5 separate regions of the Homo sapiens genome follow, and all the other regions are reported to be linked to region 5. The links are microRNA targets in miRTarBase. Many come from high-throughput screens and were not tested one by one. Region 5 holds a microRNA gene; each other region holds the end of a gene's coding sequence.

Evidence for each region. The annotated mature microRNA hsa-miR-588 reads UUGGCCACAAUGGGUUAGAAC and lies in region 5 at 2,183-2,203, shown strand. An mRNA with a match to its seed (bases 2 to 7 or 8) in the 3' UTR can be bound and repressed. Matches are read on the target gene's strand: a 7mer-m8 pairs with bases 2 to 8, a 7mer-A1 pairs with bases 2 to 7 and ends in A, and an 8mer does both.
Region 1: the mRNA of PEX26 is a reported target of hsa-miR-588. Seed matches in the 3' UTR shown: 7mer-m8 at 4,030-4,036, 7mer-m8 at 3,582-3,588, 7mer-A1 at 3,558-3,564, 7mer-A1 at 3,091-3,097 and 7mer-A1 at 704-710.
Region 2: the mRNA of U2AF2 is a reported target of hsa-miR-588. Seed matches in the 3' UTR shown: 7mer-A1 at 4,328-4,334.
Region 3: miRTarBase lists RPP14 as a target of hsa-miR-588. Seed matches in the 3' UTR shown: 7mer-A1 at 3,117-3,123 and 7mer-A1 at 2,775-2,781.
Region 4: the mRNA of ZFP69B is a reported target of hsa-miR-588. The part of its 3' UTR that is shown has no 7-base or 8-base seed match.

Annotation. Positions count from the first base shown.
Region 1 is chr22:18,087,048-18,092,150 of GRCh38, reverse strand. It overlaps PEX26 (peroxisomal biogenesis factor 26), which reads right to left. Exons shown (of 5, transcript NM_001127649.3): 5 at 1-4,179. The coding sequence ends at 4,076. Among named protein-coding and RNA genes, the nearest start is that of PEX26, 12 kb to the right of the region's middle. RefSeq lists enhancers at 169-378, 399-458.
Region 2 is chr19:55,673,691-55,678,793 of GRCh38, reverse strand. U2AF2 (U2 small nuclear RNA auxiliary factor 2) reads right to left here. Exons shown (of 12, transcript NM_007279.3): 12 at 4,078-4,860. The coding sequence ends at 4,726. It overlaps EPN1 (epsin 1), which reads right to left and starts at 3,568. Exons shown (of 11, transcript NM_001130072.2): 1 at 3,359-3,568; 2 at 1-267. The coding sequence starts at 166. RefSeq lists an enhancer at 466-875 and silencers at 797-1,091, 3,287-3,616, 3,787-4,006.
Region 3 is chr3:58,316,486-58,321,588 of GRCh38, reverse strand. It overlaps RPP14 (ribonuclease P/MRP subunit p14), which reads right to left. Exons shown (of 6, transcript NM_007042.6): 4 at 4,998-5,074; 5 at 4,596-4,674; 6 at 1,396-4,149. The coding sequence ends at 4,093. HTD2 (hydroxyacyl-thioester dehydratase type 2) reads right to left here. Exons shown (of 5, transcript NM_001348712.2): 3 at 4,998-5,074; 4 at 4,596-4,674; 5 at 1,396-4,149. The coding sequence starts at 3,975. The coding sequence ends at 3,469. Among named protein-coding and RNA genes, the nearest start is that of HTD2, 13 kb to the right of the region's middle.
Region 4 is chr1:40,462,738-40,467,840 of GRCh38, reverse strand. ZFP69B (ZFP69 zinc finger protein B) reads right to left here. Exons shown (of 5, transcript NM_023070.3): 5 at 4,126-5,103. The coding sequence ends at 4,252. Among named protein-coding and RNA genes, the nearest start is that of ZFP69, 12 kb to the left of the region's middle.
Region 5 is chr6:126,482,464-126,487,566 of GRCh38, forward strand. It overlaps MIR588 (microRNA 588), which reads left to right and starts at 2,168; the gene lies at 2,168-2,250. It also overlaps a transcript of CENPW not described here.

The sequences.
Region 1 (5,103 bases), not on the chromosome of region 5:
CATCGGCCCCACGGCTTTTCCGTGCTGGGAGGGAGGAAAGCAGAGGACGGCACAGGGAGGCTGGGAGGGAGGAAGGAAAGCAGACGACGGCACAGGGAGGTGCCCTACTCGCGGTTCATGTCATCACTTTCGCTTTCTGACAGTTCCTTGGGCTGCTTTAAGTGGATAGCAGAGGCCACCTTCTAGATGTAGAAAGAAACTGAACGTCCAGAGTGTGAACTGGCCTGCTTGTATCTCCCCTCGGCGGCAGTGGTGGTTGCCAGCCTGGCTTGCGTTTGCCCAAAAGTAATAGTAAAGAGCTCTGACCACTGCTGCTCACCCTAAACTTGGGGCTGCTGTACTTGTAGGCTTTGGAAAGCATGGAGGGGTTTCCACATATTAAAAAGGAAAAGGGCACCAGGTCTGTGCTCTGTGACCCCATCACGCAACGGAATGACACACAGCTATGAAGAATGAGGCTGCTCCACATATGCTGGGACTGAGAAAGGTTTTTGTGTTTTGTTTCGTTTCTGAGACCAAGTTTCACTCTTTGTTGCCCAGGTGGGAGTGCAATGGCGCGATCTCAGCTCACTGCAACCCTTGCCTCCCGGGTTCAAGTGATTCTCCTGCCTCAGCCTCCTGAGTAGCTGGGATTACAGGTACCCACCACCATGCCCGGCTCATTTTTTTTTTGTATTTTTAGTAGAGATGGGGTTTCACCATGTTGGCCATGCTGATCTCGAACTCCTGACTTCAGGTGATTCACCCACCTTGGCCTCCCAAAGTGCTGGGATTACAGGCATGCGCCACCGCGCCCAGCCGAGAATTGTTTTTTTTCTTTTTAAACGTGGCACAGTGTGTGTAGTGTATGTGACTACTATCATTTGTGTAAGAGAAAGAAAAGTTTACTATCAGAGACTGTATCTGGAGGGATAAACAGACTGGCAAGGGTTGCCTCTGGGCAAGAAACTGGGGAATAGAGAGCGGGAGTAGAAAGACTGTATTAGCTGGGTGTGGCAGCACACACTGTAGGCCCAGCTACTCCAGAGGCTGAGGGGAAGACTTGCTCAAGCCCAGGAGTTCAGGTCCAGCCTGGGCAACACAGCAAGACTAAAAAAAAACAACTTTCTTTTCCAAGAATACCCTTTTTGTAACTTTTGAATTCCGTATTTTTTAATGGTCTATGGTCTACAAACACTCATGTGCAAACACATACACGCAGAATAGGGATCACCTGCACGAAGCTATGAACTATTTCCTCATCCCTTCTAGCCCCTTCCTAGAGGCGAACCCTCCGCCCCCACCCCCAGGCACTATCTGTCCTGCTTGCACCCACCTCCACCCAGGGCTGGCCAACAATAGCCTGTTTCCTCTCCATTCCACCCCTCTCCCCCACCCTCCCATCCCACCACAGAAGAGGATTACTGGTTCCTGCTTTCCTTAGCGCCCCTAAATTTAAAGGTATCTGTTCTATGTTGCATGCTTCAGAACCCTGTAGAAACAACCAGCAAATCCACTGTTGATACGCAATTACCCCTCTTGGATGCATCTGCAACAAGCACTCCCCAGCTTCGAAGGGGCAGCAAAGAAGTTCACAATTACAAGACCATGGGGTCACGACCACAGAAGCGATATGAAACAGGTCCCGGGACACAGGGAGGGGCAGAAAGAATTCTTTGAGTAAGCCTGGAAGGTGGAGGGGCTCACCAGGCCAAGAGCAGGTGCTAGGCCTTCAGTAGGAACAGTGCGAGCCAAGGCACAGAGGCCAAGGGGAGCGAGCTGTAGCTGTGATGGTGGGCAGCTGGAAGGCCGCACATATAATCAACAGGGGACCCACATCAAAGGGGAGATCTTAGCCAAAACCAGCACATAGGGGCCTTCAATTCCATGAAGAATTTAGATGTTATCCAGTGAGCCATGGGAAGCCATTGAAGCGTTTTATCTAGGGTAGTTAAGTGGGCCCAGATTTTCATTTTAAGAAATCATTCTATAGAAGGAATCTCAAACCTCACCTGACTGCTTTTCTCCCCCCAGGGTTCTAAGCTTTACTTAAAAGCCCATATAAAAAAGTATAGATTTGCTTCCTACAGACTTGAACCATGCCCTAAGGATTTAATTCTAAGGGGCCTGTGAAGTTTACCTACTTTACTCATTTTTCTAAAGAAAAGTTGGCCGGGCGCGATGGCTCACACCTGTAATCCCAGCACTTTGGGAGGCCTAGGTGGGTGGATCACAAGTTCAGGAGATCGAGACCATCCCGGCTAACACAGTGAAACCCAGACTCTACTAAAAATACAAAAATATTAGCCAGGCGAGGTGGTGGGCACCTGTAGTCCCAGCTACTCGGGAGGCTGAGGCAGGAGAATGGCATGAACCCGGGAGGCGGAGCTTGCAGTGAGCTGAGATCACGCCACTGCACTCCAGCCTGGGTGACAGAGACTCCATCTCAAAAACAAACAAACAAACAAACAAACAAAACAAAAGAAAACTTGTTGCCTTGCAACCCCCGAAAATGTACCAAGGAAAAGCTAGCAAGCACCTTCTCTATTTTGGGCATCAACACCAAGGACACAGTGCAGGGCAGCCTGCTTGGCCTCTGGGTAGAGAAAGGCCAGCCCCTGCAGAAAGCCCTTCTTCATCCTGACAGCACAGCAGTGCTCTACGCTTCCTTGCACAGAAACTCATAAGATGCTTGTGGCTGGTGAGAAAACAACACTGAAACATTTCAGCTCCTCAAATGCTAAGGCCTCGGTGCCACCTCCCTAAGGTTTTATTGTTCACTGCCTTCAAAACCCATGTCTCCCGTCTGCCCCGCCCCCCACATCCCTTCCAGCTCACCTGATTACTCAGTTCCATTTTCAGCTCAGCAGCCTCTGAGGCTGGCCTACTTTTCAAGGCCACACGAGCAGAAAAATTTGGGCATTACACAAACAACAGAACATAACTAGGACAATGGGACACAGAAAGGGAAGAACCTGAAATGGTGTGTACCAAGGAGGCAAGGATACAGGCAGAACCTGGTGAAACAGCCAAGGGACAAGTTTGCAGGGCGGGAGGGAAGGGCTGGCGGGGAAAGAGTGGGCAGAGGCACTGAGCGTAACAGAGCAAGACTTGGCCAGGACAACCTGGAAAATTGAGCTGAAGACCAAGAGGCACCAGGCAAGATCACTTTACCCAGCGATAAGAGCTGTAAGGCTCACTTGGTTTTCAGTAGTCAACCCGGTGGTTCTGAAAACCACACCCCAGCCTGAACAGTGAGAAGGCTCCTGCAGCTTCAAGCGCATGGCAAGACCATGGGAACAGCCTATTGATACAGAATTAGATCAGCTCTGGGGAGCACAGTGCAGGCAAGAAGAGGCCCTCTCAGATCTACTCTAGCTAATTAAGGTACTGTCCTGTGGGGCATGTTTTTTTGTTTGTTTTGAGAGAGTGCGGTAGCACAATCTCAGCTCACTGCAACTTTTGCCTCCCTGGCTCAAGTGATTCTCCTGCCTCAGCCTCCCAAGTAGCTAGGACTATAGGCGTGCACCACATCTAGCTAATTTTTGTATTTTTAGTAGAGATGGGGTTTCACCATGTTGGCCAGGCAGGTTTTGAACTCCTGGCCACAAGTGATCCACCCACCTCACCCTTCCAAAGTGCTGGGATTACAGGCGTGAGTCACCATGCCCAGCAAAGAAGTATGTTTCTCAAGAAGTGAAAGGCCAAGGGTCACTTCACCAGGCTTTTTCTGAACTTCCAGCTCCATTAACATCCTGACCTGAAGAACCAACCCCTTGCCTTCACCAAGAAGATGGAATGTTTCATGGACACAGTCCCTGTCCCCAAACCCCTCCTTTTCAAGGGGCCTCTGGTCATCCGGGGCACTGTTCTGGAGGTGCTGTGCCTGCTGGTCCTGCTTTGTTTCCACATCATCTACCGCGACCAGCCGAAGTAGGGTGCAAAGGAGAGGGCACCCAGGCAGCAAGACACAGTGCACTCCGCGAGATTAGGCTGGTCCCATTTCCCCAGGGGCGCCTGTGGATGTGTCGCTCTGTCGCTCTGCTTCTGTGGCCACGGACGTGAGGAGCAGAGAGGCTGTGGTGCGCAGGGACCCTCAGTCACGGATGCGGAGCTGGTAGAGGCGAGAAAATGCAGCCTTCCGGATCCAGCGGAAGAGCTGGGCCAGCTTGTAGAGGAAGTGCAGGGAGGAAGGGGAAGCTGCAGGGCAGAGGGAGACTACAGTGAACGTCCCACCCCTCTCACCTGTCACTCTGCCATCTCCCACCCTGGGAGACTCCACTACCAATTACACATAGTTGGTTTTGTTTTGTTTTTTTTAGAGACAGGGTCTCGCTCTGTCACCTAGGCTAGAGTACAGTGCAGTCTGTGTTCAGCTCACTGCAGCCTCAATCTCTGGGGCTCATGCGATCCTCAGCCTGCAGGTGCAGGTTCTCCTCCCCCACCATCATCACTCCAATGAGTCGGGCCTGCTGCTGAGGGTCAGGGCCACTGGGCCAGGCCCTTCTGAAGCAGCCTTGGAAAGAGCAGGCTCAAATGTCCTCATGCCATCCCCACTAGGAGACCAGGGTTTACGAGACTAAAGGGCTTACGGGAACCATAAAGAATCATAAAGAGTTTCTAAATCTGTATCAGTCAGGAGGTGGCCAGGGATGAACGCTGATGATACTGAGCATTCCGAGCGCTAACTCGTGACTTCTTTGTAAAGCAAACAGAGTCGTCCACAGGGGATCCCTGCTCAGCATTCAGCAGACGGGTTAGAAGGACAACTCTGAGCTATGTGACGGAAACCTCGCTGGCCAGGCATGATGGCTTGTGCCTATAATCCCAGCACTGTGGGAGGCTGAGGTGAGAGGATCACTTAAGGCCAGAAGTTGGAGACCAGCCTGGCAAACATGGCGAAACCCCGTCTCTACTAAAAATACAAAATGTAGCCTGGCATGGTGGTGTGTGCCTGTAATCCCAGCTACTTGGGATACTGAGGCAGGAGAATCGCTTGAACCCAGGAGGCGGAGGTTGCAGTAAGCCGAGATCACGCCACTGCAACCTGGGCAACAGAGCAAGACTCTGTCTCAAAAATAAAAATAAAAAATTAGCCGGGCATGGAGGCACATGCCTGTAGTC
Region 2 (5,103 bases), not on the chromosome of region 5:
TCTCCGAGAAGGCGACAACGTTGTAGGTGAGGTCGGCAATCTCTGACATGAGGGAGCTGGATGGGCCCCAGGGGTCATTGCTCGTGGCCTCTCGAACCTTGATCTCCGCCTCTGAGTAGTTGTGGACGATGTTCTTCATCTGGCGCCTCAAGGACGAGGTCGACATGGTGCCCGGCTGCAGCAGCAAGGGGCACAGGGCCCCGATGCGTGGAGAGATGGGGCGACTCCCGGACGAAGGCTGCGGCAGGTGCTGGCAGGTCACCGCATCTGCGAGGGGAAGAGGACCTCTGGAAACACAAATGGGACATGGCCTGCCCAGAGCCCTCAGGGTCAAAGATGAGTTCCTAACTGTGGCCCAGAAGGCTCTGTCCCTTGTTAACCTCTAGGTCTCAAAGTAACCCCATCCATGTTTCAGTTCCTCAAACAGGCTGCCTCCTTCCTGCTGGGGCCCCTGCTCAGTGAGGCAGAGTATATGCAGTGGCAGATCGCAGCCCCACAACCTGGCTCAGCACTTCCTGGCAAGGCCACCCTGGGCGGGCTGGATCTTTTGCACCTCAGCTTTCTCTTCTGTCAAATGGGGCTCCATGCGGTCATCTAGAGAACTGACGCCCTGTAAACACCGGCAGCGCATCAGGAGGCCCTCCGTCCTGCCCATGCGCTCTTCCTTCTTCCTCATCCAGGGATATCCACTCACCCCAAGGGCTCTGCTTACACTTCCCAGGTGCACACCCAAACATCACAGTCACCTATCCCTGGGGCCTCATCAGTAAACTCAGTCTCCCTCATGATTTTATATTCTCGTCTGATTCTGTAGCTAAGGTCAACCCACAGGCCCCATGGGGGCAGAGAACATGTCTGTCTGCATGTGGCTTTTCCCAGCAAAGAAGCTGGCCCAGAAAAACCATTCAGTAAACCATGCAAGGAGGAAGTGGAGAGGGAGGGCAGGAAAGACCTCTGGAACAAGGGCAGAGGGGGCAGGAATCCACAGCAGAAACAAGGACACATGGGAAAGAAGGCTGATGAAGGGATTAAAGACAGAGGCAGGAGCAGGGAACCAACCCAGGGCGGCAGGAAGAACCGGGGAAGCCAGAAGACCAGACGTCCCAAGGATAGCGGAAGCCCAAGGCTCAGGAGAGATAAGGAACCTAACAGCCCCACTGCCTGGGTCCCTGCTGTGTGCCAGGTGCTCGCTCAGCACAAGAGGGACATTACCTTTTTCAACACTGCATGCAAAGACTGGGCTCCTGGAAGTTAAATAATTCAACCAAGGTCACACACCAGGAATGGCAGGGCAGACTCAACCCGAGGCCCACCTGAACTCCAAAACTCATACTTTTAAATTAACCTAAATTAAATTAACCCATCCCGAGACTGGTGACGAGAAACAAGAGAGTCAAGCAAATGATGATGACACCAGCAGACACTCGCACTGCTCTTATCCCATGCCAGGCACTGTTTTAAGTGCTTTACATGTATTAACTCAGTTAATCCTTGAAACAACCCCATGATTCATAGCCACCTCACAGGGTGGAAACTGAGACACAGAGGTTCAGCCCCTTGCCCAGGGACACACACCTTACTCCTGGAGCAGCCTGGTTCCAGAGCCAGCTCTGATCACCCATCTATGCGGCTCCAAGAAGCCACAGAGGGAGATTTTCAAAGCCCCGCCATGATGTAAGCCCAGGGGAGATAGGGATGACGGAGAGAGGCTGGCCTCTGCTTCCACCTCAGGCCAGAAAGCCAGGCACCTGAAGACAGATGTAGCTAGTTAAAAAGTAACTCTCTGGAGTCCCAAAACAGCCCCAGCCTAATACATTAAGATGAAGAGATGATGTAACAAATGCAGAGAAGGGGACTGAGAAGAAATAGAAGACAGTTCTGACAGAAAGAGACACATAGAAACCTGGGCAGAGGGAGCTAGGCAGAGACACAATGAGAAAAACACAGGCAGCAGCAGATACAAGAACATGGGAAGACAGGGAGGCAGGAGGCCAAGGAAGAAAGAGGCCCAGAAACAAAAAGAGACCTGGCGCTGAGAAATAAGAGATAAGAAAAATGGAATCTAATGGCAAAGAATATAAAATGTGGGTTCAAATCCTGGCCACATCAGCTACCTGCAGCGCACACCTCCTTGAGACACAGTTTGCTCAACTCTGAAATGAAAGAATTCCTACCTGGTAGGCCTGTTGATTAAATAAGATGGGTACATGCAGTGCTTGGCTCTGTGCCCCACAGATAGTAGGCGCTCAATAACACTGGCTGCTATTATTATCAGAGAAAAAACAGAGAACATTTCCAAAAGGGTGGCGGCAGAAAAGGCACTATCTTAATACTCTGTACTTATTTGGCGTGCATTAGAAAAAATTACCCAACTAGCACATCAAAGCTGAGATTTCTCAGATACTGCTTAGAATGAGACTGTATTTCAAATTAAATTGATTCAAAGAGAATTCTTACATTAAAAAGAATACAAAGGATATGGCAAAGTTCTCCAAGGAGTACTCCAATAACCGACCGATATCTAACACTTACTGTGTAAAAATCTCTAAGCACTGTAATAATAAAAACCAGAGCTCCCAGTAATTACACACTTGCTATGTGTCAGATACCGTCAGGCACTTTACAAGCATCACCTCAACTTACATGCACAAGGACCCTATGATGTAGGAACTACGAATGCCTACGAACTATGGATTTCCTACGACTAGGAAACTGAGGTTTTGACACAGAGACTATCACCTGGCAATTACACAGCTTAGCAGGCAGCCGGGCTTCTGAATCCAAGGCTGGGGCTCTTCACCATCACACCAGAGACTCAGAAAACTGGGGAAAAGGGGCAGATTCTAGATCAAGTTAACAGACTCCTGGAAAGAAACTTCAGGATTGGAGGTGATAGGTATGGGGGCAAAACTCAGATGCGAAGACGGGGCGGGGGTAAGATTTGCACCATAGGCAGAAAAGCCCGCAGGGAAGGGCTAGAGACACCTAGGGAAAAGAAGACTCGGAAACTCAACGAGACACGAACAAATCCTGACAGACACAGACACGACAGACAGAGGAGAGAGAGACCCGGGACAGACACACAAACACACTCCTATCTCCAAACCCTTTTCTAAGTTCACTGAAACAGGCACAGGCAGAGGCCCACAGGAAACAGACGCTGACAGACACACAGACACGAGAGAGACAGACACAGACAACCGACACGGGGGCAGTCAAGGCCGACACAGGAGCAGAGACACAAAGGCCGCCAGAGACACCCAGAACTGGCCAGACGCGAGCCCGCGCGCGCCGCGGCCCAGGCCCGAACACCCGGAGCAGGCGGGCCAGCGTCCCCCGCGCTCCGCCCCGCGCTCACCTCGGCCCCCTCACGCCGGGCTCTGGGGGGTCATGGCGGTCAGCCCCCTGCCCCGCTCGGCCTCGGTGTCGCGGGACGTGCGCCGGGCCACGGGCGCACGCACGAACGCAAGGAGGGCCGCACGCCGACGGCTCCGCCGCCCCGCCGCCCAGAAGGGGCGCGGAGAGCCGGGCGGGGGAGGGGAGCCGCCGAGGAGACGGGAAGCAACAGAAGGAGGCGACGGACCGGAAGCGGAAATTGCCGCGCTCCCCGCCCTCCCGTGCCGCACCCCGCCCTGGCAGGAGTCGCTTCCGCAGCCAAGCCAACCTGGAAGGCATCACTTCCGGCGCGCTGGGCCCCGTTGCTAGGCGCCTCTACGTCACTTCCGCCCGCTGCAGCGGGGGATCCGCGCGGTGCTCACGGAACGCCGAGAGTCAGCTCCAGCTCGCTTGGCGGCAACCGCGGAGCTCCTGGCACACCCACGCCACGCCCGCCCCGGCCCGCTCGGCCACCATCCCTCCTGTCGGCGGGGTGGGAGAGCACTCGGGAACCTCACGTCCCCCGGGGCTGTGCCTGTGCCGACCCCGAGAAGGGCACCGCGCAAGCAGGGAAGGCCTCGAGGCTGCCGGCGCCGGCAGCAGGGGCGTCCCAGCCAGGGGCCCGCAGTTTGCCAAGGGAACCCCCACCCGAGCCCAGAACCGAGGAAGAGGGTCGGACATACTGGACACACAGCCGCTCCATAAAGTAAAATACAACAAAATGTTTAATGAGCAAATTCGTCTTAGCAAATATGAAACTGCCACAGAGAGTAGGAGAGGGGCAGGGGCCACGGGGCTGGGCGCAGGTCGGGGGAGACTAAAGAGGAAAAATCAACTACGTAAGAAACCCAGGAGGGGACCAGAGAGGACCAGAGGCCGAAGGAACAGAGCTGTGGTCCTGGTAAGGGAGAGGGCAGGGCACTGAGGGCCGGACAACAAAATTCAAAATAGTTTGGCCATAAAATATAAACACGCTATGTTCCTACCGTGGGGAAGGGGAGAAGAAAGGGGTCTATGGGAGAAGGAGAGGCTGTTTTGGGAGGGGCTGGGGTCCTACCCCGCCCTGCTGTGCACCCTGTCCCCATCCCAACCCCTTCCCTCTGTGTCTGTGTGGGTGCGTGTTGTCTGTGTGGGCTGTGTGCGCACTTCCCCAGTCCCCTCCCTGCCCTAACCCCCCAACCCCCCAACCCCCGCCCCCCACCCTTAATTGCTGCCATTCCAGTTGCTGCCGGCTGTCGTGTGTCTGCGGCTGTCACTCCTCTGCCCATCGTCTTCAGAGGGGGATAAGGGGGGGGCGGGAGTGGGGAGAAGCCCCCAGCCAGCCCTGCCCCCACCCTCCCCCAGCCGCCTCTACCAGAAGTCCCGGCGGTGATAAGAGTCGGGGTCACAGTATTTTGTGACAACCACTCTGTTGGCGAACTTGCGGCCCGTCAGGCCCTGCATGGCTTTCTGGCAGTCAAACACAGAGGTGAACTCCACAAAGATCTGTGGGGAAAGGAGAGGCAGGTTTGTGAACAAGGCTCACGCCCAACAGCCAGTCAGCGTCCACCCAACCCCAGCACTGAAGGCAGGAAGGGACAGGGAGGAGGGGGCTTCGCCACAGGTGTCAGAAAGGGACCCTTAGTAAGCAGGTTTGGTGGAGTTCACCCAAATATTCTCCAGGATCAAAAAACAAGAGCATAAACACACCATAGGCATGGAGAGGGAGAAAGAATAGAGACATGCCAG
Region 3 (5,103 bases), not on the chromosome of region 5:
ATGTTAACTTCACACAGTTGTTTCAAGGATTAGCATTAATGTAGAAAATCAACTCATCAGGCATTGAAAAAATGGTGGCTATCAGTATCAATGATCACATCCCAATCCAGTTATGGACCTAACTTTAAGACTGCTGCTAAATCCCAGGGAATGAGTTCTGCAGGAGCAAGCAGTCCTGGCCTCAAGTCCGTATATTTGTGCATGTTCCCCATTTTGTTTTGCCATTTGAACACATTTTCAGCATGTCTAGTGATTCACCTATAAATGTCTTCTTCAAGTGGATCTCAGCCTGCACATGCTGCACATTCTGAAACTCACAAGAACAGTATCCTTGCTCCCCACATTGATTTTGGTCTTGTCTTCCACCTTAGAAAACTAGTATATGGTATAATACAGTATTAAAGTTTTAAAGTACTAACTTTATACACAACACTGCCCTCTAGCGACTAGAATAATTTTTTTTTTTTTTGAGACGGAGTCTCGCTCTGTTGCCCAGGCTAGAGTGCAGGGGCACGATCTCAGCTCAATGCAACCTCCACCTCCCAGTTCAAGCAATCTTCCTGCCTCAGCCTCCGAGTAGCTGGGATTACAGGCACGCACCACCACACCCAGTTAATTTTTTTGTATTCTTAGTAGAGATGGGGTTTCATCATGATGGCCAGGATGGTCTCAATCTCTTGACCTCGACCTCGTGATCCGCCTGCCTTGGCCTCCCAAAGTGCTGAGAATTACAGGCATGAGCCACCACGCCTGGCCTAGAATAATTCTTTCTAGTTGTCTGTTCAGCTGCTCTCTGGGTAAAAATTAAAAATTCTGTCATAGATTGTCTTGAATGTGTTGGCTGACATTAGAGAAATGGAAATCATAACTACAATGAGATACCACCTCATGCCCAATAGTAATTTGAACAACAATTTGACAATTCTTTATAATATTAAAGTTACATGATCCAGCAATTCCACTCCTAGAATTTAAAACCTGTCGGCCAGGCGCAATGGCTAACGCCTGTAATCCCAGCACTTTGGGAGGCCGAGGCAGGCAGATCACGAGGTCAGGAGATCGAGACCATCCCGGTTAACACGGTGAAACCCCGTCTCTATTAAAAATACAAAAAATTAGCCGGGCGTGGTTGCAGGCGCCTGTAGTCCCAGCTACTTGGGAGGCTGAGGCAGGAGAATGGCCTGAACCCAGGAGGAGGAGCTTGCAGTGAGCTGGGATCGCACCACTGCACTCCAGCCTGGGCGACAGAGCAAGACTCCATCTCAAAAAAGAAAAAAAGAAAATATATATATATATATATATTTAAAACCTGTGCACATAAAAACCTCTTCTATAATGTTCATAACATTATTTTTAACAGCCCAAAAGCGAAAATAATCCAAATATCAACTGATGTATGGGTAAATACAATGGAATATTATTCAGCCATAAAATAAAATGATGTACTGATACATGCTGTAACATGGATGAACCCTGAAAACATGCTATATCAAAGAAGCCAGTTCCAAAGGATCATACATTGTATGAACTTTTATGAAATGTCCAGAACAGGGAAACCCATAGAGACAGAAAGTAGACTGGTGATTCCCAAAGACTGGAGGAGAGAAATGGATTGACTGCTAATGGGAGGTTCTTTTGGGGGTGATGAAAAATGCTATAAAAAATTGATTTGGTGATGGTTGTACAACTTTGTGGATATTCTGAAAACCACTAAACTGTACACTTTTAAAAGGTGAATTTTATGGTATGTGAATTATATCTCAATTTTATTAAAAAACGGGAAACAAAAAAAAATGGGAAACAAAAGTGTTGGCTGTGTTGGGATGGCCATTTAGTAGTAACATGTTAGGCACATCTCCCCTTCAATATAACCTCCCTGACCCCAGCCCCCAAAGTCTTAAGAATTTGGCCTCCATAATCTTCTTAATATTTATTTCTTACAATTTTTTTTTTTTTACTATAAGCATGTATTACTCATAATAATGGGAGGTAGATCCAAATTTTCAAGGAATAATCTGAACTTTTATAACAGAAACTGTACTTAAGAACACTAATAGAGGTTGGCTGACACCCTGAAAAACTGGTCTGTTACGTTTAACTGTGGGCCAGTCAGCTTCAAACTCAGGAAAACCTCTCACCTCAGTTGCAGGGGAAATGGGCAACAATAATAGTAGCTACTGCTGACAGGCTGGGCCCTGTGCTTAACTCCATCTATCATCTCCACCAACTATCCCACATGGCATGTGCTACCACTATTTTACAGATCAGACCGTTTACATAACTGAGACCGAGGATGCACATACGCCCCTCCCCTGAAACGCAAGTCTCACTGAAGGTAGACTAAGATGCCACCTTGGTGTAAATAACAAATTACAATAAACTCTGACTCAGATACTGAAGAACAGTCTAAAAATATTCATTGATAAAAGGTAGGTGTTCAAAGATGACCCAACTTCTATTTTCGCCTTCAATAATTGTTACACAGTTAAAATACAGTGACAAGCTGCTTCCACATGGCTATAGGTAGGGATTTGTTATCCAAATGCAAATCTATCTAGGTCTGAATTTCTAAAAGTAGAATCTTTTTTTTTTTTTTGAGGTGGAGTTTTGCTCTGTCACCCAGGCTGAAGTGCAGTGGTGTGATTTCAGCTCACTGCAACCTCCCAGGTTCAAGAGATTCTCCTGCCTCAGCCTCCCAAGTAGCTGGGATTACAGGTGCCCGCCACCATGCCCGGTTAGTTTTTGTATTTTTAGTAGAGATGGGGTTTCACATGTTGGCCAGGCTGGTCTTGAACTCCTGACCTCAAGTGATTCGCCTGCCTCAGCCTCCCAAAATGCTGGGATTACAGGCGTGAGCTGCCACGCCTGATTTAAAAGTAGAGTCTTTAAATAACCTTCCCAATACTTCTTTCTTGAGACAGGGTCTCGCTCTGTCACTCAGGCTACAGTGCAGTGGTGCAATCTCAGTTTCTCACCATAACCTCCAGCTCTCAGGCCCAAGCAATTCTCCCACCTCAGCCTCCCAAGCAACTGGGACTACAGGGCCAAGTCACCAAGCACAGCTAGTTGCACTTTTTTTTTTTTTTTTTTTTTGGTAGAGATGGGGTTTCACCATGTTGGCCAGGCTGGTCTTGGACTCCTGACCTCAAGTGATCCGCCTGCCGCAGCCTCCCAAAGTGCCAGGATTACAGGCATGAGCCACCGGGCCCAGCCTACTTCTTGAATTAAAAAACAAAAAACAAACAAAAAACCCAGGCAGATAATGAAATCCTGCATACACTCAAGTCTGCATGAAGCATAAGGCCAAACTGGAAAGTGGGCATTTGAACAACCCTCTTCCTGCTCCCTTCCCCTAACTAAGATGGGCTTCTGGGCCTATCAACCATTCTTTGGTAAAGAGCAGCAATTCCCCATAGGCTCTTTAACAACAGCATTGGTGTTTGAGGTTGCATCTTTAAAACATCTATTTCAGGATTTGGAAGCTTCTGGAACCATAACTTTAACCCAGCCTTCCATAACAGTCTTTTTACTTTCTATTACAGAACATGACACTGCAATAATAGCAATGAACCGCTTCAGCTTTTTCACTTCTGCAGAAGCTAAAACAACTTCTCCAATATATAAAGGGGCTGGAAAGCTAATTTCCTGGGAAAGAAATACACAGCCTGGCCCTGGCATTTTAGTTCCTAGGAGAGCTGAGATAAGTCCGTTGATCAAAACTCCATGTACAATTGTATTTCCAAACTTGGTGTGTTTTGCAAAGTCTTCATTCAAATGCAAAGGATTGACATCCCCTGTTAATTCTGAGAAGGTAGCCACATCAGTCTGTGTGAAGGCCCTCCTAAGTTCAGCGCGGTCTCCAACTTTGATGTGCATATGCTGAAAGTGCTGCAGGGTCAGCACTGGCAGGTTCAGACAGACTGTCCTCCGAAGCCCACCCCACCAAAGGTGATGGCTGGAAATTAGTGGGAACATCTTCAGCACCCTCAAATTTCATCAAGAGCTTTTAGCCTGCTTCAGTCTTCAAACATGCAGGCACCAAAAAATAAATATGAGAGTGGATGAACGTTTCCAAAATGGAAGACTATTCATTCAATCCAATACTAGTTCCCTACTATTACCAGATAATGCAAGAAGAAATGGAGAAACCTAGAAGAGAAAGAAAAAGGTTAAGGCATTGGGAGAAACCACACTGAAGCACAGGGCAATGGGGAAACATGCCCAGTTTTACAGGATAAACAAAGCTGATGCAGGAGCATTTTACAGAGCATCCTGAGAGGAAGCCTTCGATAACAAGTGGTCACATCTCAAAAAGAGCGTACCAATATATAACACACAAGGCATTAAGTGTTAAATAAAAAAAGTAAGCCTTAACCACAGGGTTGCAAGTTTTATCCCAAAACATCTCCCATAGATTTTAAAATCTAAGTGCTCTGTCTCACATTTTTGGAAACAATCAAGTCCTTTATTTTCCCCTACTTAGATCATTTTAACCATATTACATTTATGCAAGCACAAAAATGAGTTGTGTATATTAAGAAGCAGTTGACCCATCACTCAGTCTTGTTTGGAATATGTGAGGGAATAGTCTTTACCTGAATCACCCGGAAAGCACATTTTTTGCCTTTATAGGATCCTAACAGGGTCAAAGAGCTCCACAATTTGACAAGACCACTGCAGAAAGATCAAGAAAATACATAGTGTGTCATAGACAGAGAACAAAATGAACTTCAACTAAGGTTTCTAAAATATTCACTTCTGACTTTGCAACTATAACCATCAATGGGAAAACTACAGCTGTAACCAAATCGTAAGTTTTGCCCTCTCTAGAGTACAAGTTTCTGGTGGATGAATGTTCATATTCATCCCAGTTTAAATTCCCAAAAGCTGCTCAGAGTTCACAACAAAAAATTTATTCTCATTCTCAGAAGAGAGCATTTTTGCTCCATCGGTCTCTCTGCCCTGTTATACTAGAAATTTCCCACTCTCTGTCATACCTGCTACATATTCTCAAGATGGCTGACAAGGTCTTCTCTTCATAGGTTAGGATGTCCAAAGGTAAGGCGGCATCAACCTGCATATGGAATAATGCTATTAGCAGGC
Region 4 (5,103 bases), not on the chromosome of region 5:
GATTCTAGAACAACTCTGGAATCAAGGACACCAAAGTCAATCCACAAATCACTAACATGACATGAAATTTTTACTGGCACATAGTGAAGTGAGAAAAGTAAGGACAAATTTGGGAATTTGTCATAAAGCTGATATAATATACAGGGCTGCTCCTGGCCGGACATGGTGGCTCATGTCTGTAATCCCAGCACATTGGGAGACCGGTCCTTCACCAGAGAATAAACCTCTAGTCTCCTTTGGGATGAGGAAAGGGTAATGGGATGAAGAAAGGCATGAGGGAGGAATGTGTGCGTAACAGCCAGCTGTATGGGTAGGTGAGGGGGTCTAAGGATCTGACATTAGAATTTCAATGAATCCCCATTTTCAGCCCTCTTTCTTCCATAATGCCCACTGTCTCCAAGGCCTCTGTCTTCCCAGGAACATCCTTGTGCCAGTATACTTTTCTGCAGGCTCTGCTAAGTCAGTCACCACTCTTCTATTTTCTCACCACCAAAAACTTGACATCTCATGTCTGCTTCTATATTCTCCTCTATTGTCTTTTATACCCTCCAGTTTGCTTATGCACTCAGGTTCATGAAATAAAGATAAACTCATGTTGTTAATCAGCCACATTTAAATGCATTTTAAACAAATTAGGCTGGGCACAGTGGCTCATGCTTGTAATTCCAGCACTTTTGGAGGCTGAGGCAGGTGATTGCCTGAGCTCAGGAGTTTGAGACCAGCCTGGGAAACATGGCAAAACCCCGTCCTACAAAAAATACAAAAATTAGCCAGGTGTGGTGGTATGTGCCTGTAGTCTCAGCTACTCAGGGGGTTGAGGTGGGAGGATCGCTTGAGCCCAGAAAGTTGAGGCCGCAGTGAGCCATGATCATGACGCTGCACTCCAGCCTGAGCAACATAGTGAGACTTTGTCTCAACAAACAAACAAAAACAACCAAACCAAATTAACACAGAAATACCCTTTTATCTTAAAGTATATCAGCTATGATTCTCAAAGGTATACGATTCTCAAATATTGGTCCACTTGCACAGAAAAGAAAAAGGAAACAAAAAATATTTCCTCACATATAAAATGTAGGTAGGAAAGTATATGGATTACATTTCTTTACTTGCATCATGGATACATAGTTCAATTCAGTTCAAATCAAAACCATTCAATACATATTTACTGAGTCCCTTCTGCGTGTCAGGCACTGTTTTAGGCACTTGTGATATATCAGTGAAAAAAACAAAGGCCCCTGCCCACATGGAGCTTACATTATAGCCAGGGGAAACAACAGTAAACAATAAACACAAATATGTGAAGTATCTAGGGTGATAGGTGATATGAAAAACATAGAGCAGGTGAAAGGGGTATGGGATTTCTCGATCTGGAAGGTAGACAGCTGCAGTATTAAATAGTATGGACAGGATAGGCTTCAGTAAGAAGGCAACAATTGAGCAAAGATGAGAAGGTAAGGGTATAGGGCATCTGCAACAGCTAGTGAAACGGCCCAAAGGTTAGAACAAGGCTGGAGTTCGGGAGAGGTCTGGGCTGGAGATGTGAATCTGGCAGCTGTTAAACAGAGACGGTATTTTAAGCCAAAGACTGTATGAGATCACTGAGGCAGGAACTACAGAGAAAAGTCATAGTCATGTCTTTCAGGGAAATAAGCAATTGGAGAAATTCAAATTCTTGGGAAATCTAAGACCATAGAAACATGGTAGAACAATTTTAAGAAACAGTGTATACCTCACTCTTTTTCTGCCCATCAGTCATACAGGACTTAAGAGTTAGAGGCCAGCTTTTTTTTTAAGTAAATGTAGTAATATGAAAAATTCTAGAGATACTGGTATATATTCTGGATTTATAGCTTTACTTTAGATAATTCACACTTATAATACTCACGTGATTGAAACTGTTCTATCTCCATATAAAACAAAGAAGTTGAACTTGACTTACTTCCAATTATGTCTGTAAGGATGGAGTATCTATTTCATTAAGTACAGTGAAGCATTAGGAGCCAATTCCTCTGCTTTCTCTCCGTATTTCCCTGCCTGAGTATGGCTCCTTCAGTCACCTTTCTCTGGTCCTCTTTGGTGGGCCTCTTGATGTGTTGTTCTAGGGGCTATCTTAAGAGACACTTCCACTTGATACAAAGCATATTTCAAATCTAATGTTGTATGCTTGGCAAAGGAAAAGGTAAATAAAGTTATCTGAAAGGTTTCTCCCCAGAATGAAGTCTCAATATATCTCTCTTCAAAAAGGCATCATTATGTTTTAAGGAATTGTGGTTAATTTTTGTAGGTATAATAATGGCATTGTGGTTATGTTTTCAAAGAGTGCTCGTTTTTTAGAGATACATCTCAAAATATTTATGGATTAACCATAATAAAAAACCGATCATTATAGAGGGAAGTCTGCATAAATATCTCCAAAAATAATTCCTAGGCTCCAAGACAGCATTACAAATGTAGCGTTTAAAGAATTATTGCAACAAAAATACTAAAGGAATTGCTAAGGAAATAATTTATGGCATATACACACACTAATCTGATACTAAATGATAGTCTGTTGTCATTTCTAATCATTTTACATACTCTATGGGGGGAGGAGTGAAAAATGACAGCCCTTGAGCCAAACGAAACCTAACAGCTGTTTTTTAAATGCAGTTTATGGGAACCACTATTGCACACATTCATCAGTGGGTCTCAACCAGGGACAATTTTGGCCTCTAGGTACACCTGGCCATGTCTGGAGACATTTTTGACTGTCACAACTGGGGGAGGGGCAGCTATCAGCATTGAATGCTGGCATCTTGTGGGTAGAAGCCAAGGATTCCCCTAAACATCCCAGGATGCACTGGGCAGCTTCCTATAGCAAAGTATTATCCGGTCCAAAATATTGGTAGTGCCAAGGTTCAGATACTGTAGTTTATATATTGTCTCTGGCTGTTTTGTACTAAAATGGGGAAGTTGAATAGGTGTGACAGGGACCACATGGCCCACAACACCTAACGTATTTACTATCTGGCCCTTTACAGAAAGTTTGCCAATTCTTGCTCTATATAAAACCATAAAATATAAATAAGCATCTCGTGTACAGTAAGTTATCTATCAATGCTAGAAAACTCCCTTTAACATTTTTTCTTCTAGAAATGAGAAGCAACATTTTAATTTCTACCTCTTCTAGCCATATAAAGGGCTAGAGTAAAAGGCTGTACTATATTTTATTCTGATTTATTAAAGGGATACTTAAAAGAGTGTTTCTCAAAAGTTAATCCACAGATCACTAACACGCCATGAAATTTCACTGGCACATAGTGAACTGGGAAAAGTAAAGATAAATGTGGGAGTCTGTCATAAAGCTGACGTAATATAACAGGCTGTTCCTGGCCAGACACGGTGGCTCATGTCTGTAATCGCAGCATACTGGGAGACTGAGGTGGGAGAACTGCTTGGAGCCAGGAGTTTGAGACCAGTCCAGCAACATAGTGAGACTGTCTCTACAATAATAATAATGATAATAATAATAATAATAATAATAATAATAATAAATTAGCCAGACATGGTGGTGCACATCTGTAGGCCCAGCTACTTGGGAAGCTGAGGCAGGAAGACTGCTTGAGCCCAGGAGTTTGAGGCTGCAGTGAACTATGACATCACTGCACTCCAGCCTGGGCAAGAGTGAAACTGTTTTTTAAAAAAGGGTCTGGGTCGGGGGTGGGGGAGGGGCAGGCACGGTGGCTCACACCTGTAATCCCAGCACTTTGGGAGGCCGAGATGGGCGGATCACCTGAATGGTTCGAGACCAGCCTGGCCACCATGGTGAAACCCTGTCTCTACTAAAAATACAAAAATTAGCTGGGTGTGGTGGCAGGCACCTGTAATCCCAGTTACTCAGGAGGCTAAGGCAGGAGAATTGCTTGAGCCTGGGAGGTGGAGGTTGCTGTGAGCTGAGATCACGCCACTGCACTCCAGCTCAGGTGACAGAGCGACTCCATCTCAAAAAACAAAAAAAAAAAAAAATGGAGGGGGGAACTGTTCCTACATTTAAAAATATTAAAATGTCCTTTCTTTTCTGAAACAATGCTGATAATAGGTGTTGTGTTTTTAATATGGCAAAATTAAGAGTTGGGAACATTGTGCCAAACCATTTTTTTTTAATGTTCGTTTTTGGAAATCCAAAAACAAATGGATTTTTGAGGGATCAGGGAACCACTGATTTAGAATCTTGTGCTCCAACATAGATTCTTTGATGTTTAGTATATTTCACACAACATTGCTGAAGGTATTTCTTAAATGTGTTTTGCAGTGTCTAATAAGGGATGAACTACAGCTGAAGGCTTTTCCACACTCATTACAATCATAAGGTTTTTCTCCAGTATGAATTCTCTGATGTTTAGCAAAGGATGAATCATGCCTAAAGGCTTTCCCACAATGACTGCATTCATAAGGTTTTACTCCAGTATGGACTCTCTGATGGATAGAAAGATGTATTCTCTGGCTAAAGGCTTTCCCACATTCCTTACATTTATATGGTCTTTCTCCAGTATGAGTTCTCTGGTGTTGAGTTAGGTATGTACTATGGCTGAAGGTTTTACTACATACATTACAAATATAGGGTTTCACACCAGTATGAATAATCTCATGTTGCCTAAGGTGTCTAATCTGGAAAAACGCTTTTCCACAGTCTTTGCATGTAAAAGGTTTCTCTCTAACATGAGTTCTCAAATGCTGGATCAGTCCAATGCTCTGGCTGAAGGCTTTCTCACATACCCTACATTCATAGGGCTTTTCCCCGGTATGAATTCTAACATGTTGAGTAAGCGATGAAGGATGTCTGAAGGTTTTCCCACACTCCTTACATTCATAGGGTTTCTCACCAGTATGAATTCTCTGATGCGGAATAAGAGATGAACTTTGGCTAAAGGCTTTTCCACATTCCTTACATCTGAAAGGTTTCTCCCCGGTATGAATTCTCATGTGTTCAGTAAGGTGAATAAGCTGTTTGAAGATTTTTTCACAAATATTACACTCAAAGGTTTTCATTTTTGTATAACTCCTTGAATGATTAACTAAATCTATGTTGTATCTGCTTCTCTTTCCAGGTGTGTCATATTT
Region 5 (5,103 bases):
TCCTATGAAAGTCTTGTTTTATATTTCACATTTAGGTTTTGATGGTCCTTAAATATAAGATTTTTATACATGATATTATGTATGGATTTAGGTTAATTTATTTTTATATGGATAGCCAATTGACCCAGAACCACTTATCAAAAAGACATCCTTTATACATTGAATTGCAATAGTGTTTTATCAAAACCAGCTAAGTATTTTTGAGTGAGTGTATTTCTGAACTCTCTAATTTGTTTCATTTGTTTACCTTTTGTTGTATTATTTCCTCACCATCTTAATTATTTTTAGCCTTATAAAAGCTTTGATATTTGGTAGTATAAGTTTTCCTGTTTAGTTTTTCTTCTGTAATATTTTCTTGACTATATAAAGTCCTTGCATTTCTATGTACATTTTAGAATAAAACTGTCAATTTGCACAAAATAACAGGCTGGGATTTGGATAGAGATTATGTTGATTTGAGGGAGATTGGCATTTTATCAATATTGTGTCTTTCAGTCAATATACAGAGTATATCTATTTAGTTATTTTGATATTAATTTTTCTCACCAATGTTTTATGGTCCTTAAGGAAAAAGCCTTGCAATGTTTCTATATATGTGATCCTAGGTAGTGGACCCTTTTAGATGTTATTATAAATGATTTTGCTTTTTAATTAAATTTCATTTTTCAGTTATTTCTAGTATAAAGAAATGGAGGTGACTGATTATTGGAAACATTTATTTGTAAATTTTCTTATTTTTAATTTTTTTGTAGATTCTTGTAAATTTTCTGCAGAAAATTTATATTTTTTTCTGGCTTTATTGAACTGCTTTGAAACTCCAGTGAAATGTTGAATAAAAGTGCTGATAATTGATATTATTTCCTTATCCTTGTTCAATTGCATTAAAACTTTACCATTAACTATATATTTTTAGTAGACCTCTTTATCAGATTAGGAAAATACACTCCTGTTCCTAACTTACTGAATTAAACAAATCATGAACAAGTGTAGAATCTTATTAAGAGCTTTTTTATTGAATATACTAAAATCATCAAATGGGTTTTCTCTTTTATTAACAGATGTAAAATTTTACTAAATGCTTTTTTCCACATTCCTTTGAAATATTCATAAAGTTTTTCTATTTTTTCTAATTTGATGAATTACACTGATTGATTTTTAAAATATTAAACCAAACTTCCAATCCTGGCAAAAACTCCAATTAGTTTTATATAAAACCTATGATTTTTAAATACACTACTAGGTGGAATTTGATAATATTTTGGGTAGGATTTTTCCATCTAGATTAATGAAATATATTGGGCTATACTTTTCCAGTCCTACATTGTTATTGTAAGGTTTGGGCATCAGGGTTATGCTGGCCTCGTAAATTAAGAAATTTTTCCCTCTGTTTTCTGTTTTCTGGATAATTTTTTGTTAGAATGTATTTTTTTCTCTTCATTACATGTTTGAAAGAATTTTCCAGAGATGTCATCTAGGTCTAAAGATTTCTTTGTAAGAAAAGCTTAAAATTACATGTTTTTAGTAGATATTGGAGTGTTCATATTTTTTATTTTTGTGAATTATTACTTGTGGTTTTTCAAGTAATTTGTCCTTTTTTTCCAAATTACCAGCATCAAAGTGTTAGTAATGTCCTTTATTTTCTTCTAAATTCTGTAGGACCTGTAGTTATATATAATGTTAATATATTAATATATCACAATAATATTTTTAAAGTTTTTGCTTTTGTTATTTTTTTTGTGTGCCTATTTTCTAGTGAATTGACTTTTGGGGCTATATTGATTATCTGTTTTTCATCTACTTTCTTTGTACTTGCTCTTCTGCCACTAGCTTTTTGAAATGAAAGATTAGATCAATAATTATCAATATTCTTTCTTGCCCAAAATATTTACTTCAATTCTTATTACATCTTCTTGCTTGTAACTGGGACCCTTTTCTTTTTAGCTGAAAGACCTAGTTTTTATTTCCTTAGCACAGGTCTGTGGTGAAGAATTTTCTCAGCCATTGTTTTCAAAGATATCTTTATTGTACCTTCATTTAAAAACAATTTTTAGGGGAGAAGATGGAGCAAGATGGCTAAATAGAAGTCTCTGCTGGTCGTCCCCTCCACAGGAACACCAAATTGAACAACTATTTAAATAAAAAAGCACCTTCATGAGAACCGAAAATCAGCTTAGGTACCAATTTGGCCACAATGGGTTAGAACACTATTCCATTGTGTTCTTACCCACCATGGCCAAAATTGGGCCTAAGGGGTCCCAATTCCCGGCCTCAGCTCTTGGATGGAATTTCTAGACCTGCCCTGGGCCAGCGGAGAGCCCACTGCCTTAAAAGGAGAGTACCAGCCTGGCAGCATTCACCACAAGCTGACTGGAGTGTCCTTGGGCCTTAGGTGAACATCAGCAGTAACCAGAAAGTACTTGCTGCAAGCCTGGGCTGGTGGTGGCCAAGGGGAGAGACTCTTCTATTTGTGGAAGAAATAGGCAAGAGTGGGAAAGACTTTCTCTTGTGGCTTGGGTGCCAGATCAGCTGCAATAGAATAGAGCACCAGGTAGATTCCTAAGGTTTCTGAGTTCAGGCCCTGGATCCCAGCTGGCATCTCTGGACCCACCCAGGGCTGGGGGAGCTCACTGCCCTGAGGGAAAGGACAAATGCCTGGCTGGCTTTACCATCTGCTGATTGTAGAGCTCTAGGGCCTTGAGTACACACAGATGGTAACTAGGCAGTGGTTACCATGAGCTTTGGGTGAGACCCAGTGCTGTGCTGGCTTCAGATCTGACCCATTGCAGCCCCAGTGATGGTGGCCACAAAGAGGCTTGTGTCACCCCCTCCCCCAGCACCAGGTAGCTCAGCACAGAGAGAGAGAGAGAGACTCTGTTTGAGAGAAAGCGAGGGAAGAAAACAAGAGTCTCTGCTTGGGAATCCAGAGAATTCTTTTGGATTTTAACCAAGACTACCAAGGTAGTACCTCTACAAGTCTGCAAGAGCCACAGGAAAAGCCCTGCCTAATGCAGATATGGCTGCAGTGACCAAAAACTTAGATAACAACACCCAACACTCTTTGAATGCTTGGAAACCTTTCCCAAGAAGGATAGATGCAAAGAAGCCCAAACTGTGAAGAGTACAATAAATACCTAAGTCTTCAATGCCCAGTCACCAATAAACATCCACAAGCATAGAGATCATCCAGGAAAACATGAACTCACCAAATGAACCAAATAAGGCACCAAGGAGAAATCCTGGAGAAACAGCAATATGAGGACTTTTCAGACAGAAAATTCAAAATAGCTGTTTTGAGAAAACTCAAAGAAATTTGGGTAACACAGAGAAGCAATTCAGAATCTTATCAGATAAGTTTAACAAAGAGATTGAAATAATTAAAAATAAGTAAGCAGAAATTGTGGAGTTGAAAAATGCCATAGACATACTGAAGAAATCATCAGAGTATCTAATAGCAGAATTGATCCAGCAGAAGAAAGAATGAGTGAGCCTGAAGACAGACTACATGAAAATGCACAGAGGATCCAAAAGAAAAAATAATAAAAAAAATGAAGCATGCCTACAGGATCTAGAAAACAGCCTGTAAAAGGCGAATCTAAGAGTTACTGGCCTTAATAGGGCAGATAGAAATAGTGGTAGGGATAGAAAATTTATTCAAAGGAATAATAACAGAGAAACCTAAACAAAGATACCAATATTCAAGGAAATCAATCATGCCCCTATTTCCCCTACCCCCAGCCTCTGTAACTACCATTTTCTACTCTCTTCTATGAGTTTAGTTATTTTAAATTCCACATGTAATTGAAGTTATGGAGCATGAAGCAGATTTAGCCCAAATAAGAAAACTTCAAGATATTTAATAAACTCCAATGGTCAAAGATAAGGAAAGTATCATAAAAGCAACAAGAGAAAATAAACAAATAACATACAATGGAGGTCTAGTATGTGTGGCAGCAGACTTTTCAATGAAAACCTTACAGGCCAGGAGACAATGGCATGACATATTTAAAGTGCTTAAGGAAAAAAATAAACTTTATTCTGGAATAGTATAACTAGCGAAAATATCCTTAAAACATGAAGGAGAAATAAAGAATTTCTCAGACAAAAGATATCATCTCACTTCAGTTAAAATGGCTTATATCTGAAAGACAGGCAGTAATAAATACAGGTAAGGATGTGGAGAAAAGGAAACCCTTGTATACTGTTGGCGAGAGTGTAAATTAGTACAACCTCTATGGAGAACAGTTTAGAAGTGCCTCCAAAAACCAAAAATACAGCTATCATATGATCCATCAGTCCCACTACTGGGTATATACTCAAAAGGAAGGAAATCCATATATCAAAAAGATATTTGCACTTTCATGTTTATTGCAACATTATTCATAATAGCAAAGATTGGGAGCAACCTAAATGTCCACCAACTAATGAATAGATAAAGAAAATGTGGCAGATATACACAATGGGGTACTATTCAGCCACAAAAAAGAATTATATCCTGTCATTTGCAACAACATGGATGGGACTGGATGTCAGTATGTCAAGTGAAATGAGCCAGACACAGAAAGACAAACTTCACATGTTCTTACTTATTTGTGGGAGCTTAAAATTAAAACAAGTGAATTCATGGAGATGGAAGTCTGGTTGAAAGTATGGTTATCAGAGGCTGGGAAGGGTAGTTCAAAGGTGAGGGGTGGGGGAATGTGGGAATGGTTAATGGGCATGAAAATATAGTTAGATGCAATGGATAAGATCTATTGTTTAATAGCACAACAAAATGACTACAGTCAACAATAATTTACTGTATATCTGAAAACAACTCAAAAAGTATAATTGGATTTTTTTTGTAACACAAAGAAACAAAAAATGCTTGAGGTAATGGGTACCTCATATACCCTGATGTGATTATTATGCATTATATGCCTGTATCAGAATATATCATGTACCCCATAAATTTATATACCAACTGGGTACCCACAAAAATAAAAAAATAAAAAATATAATTTTTGTTTTATTGTAAATCGTTATTTTATTATTGTATATGTTTATGGGGTACAAAATGTTTTTATGATTTATGAGTTTATATTATGTTTTATGAATACAATGTAA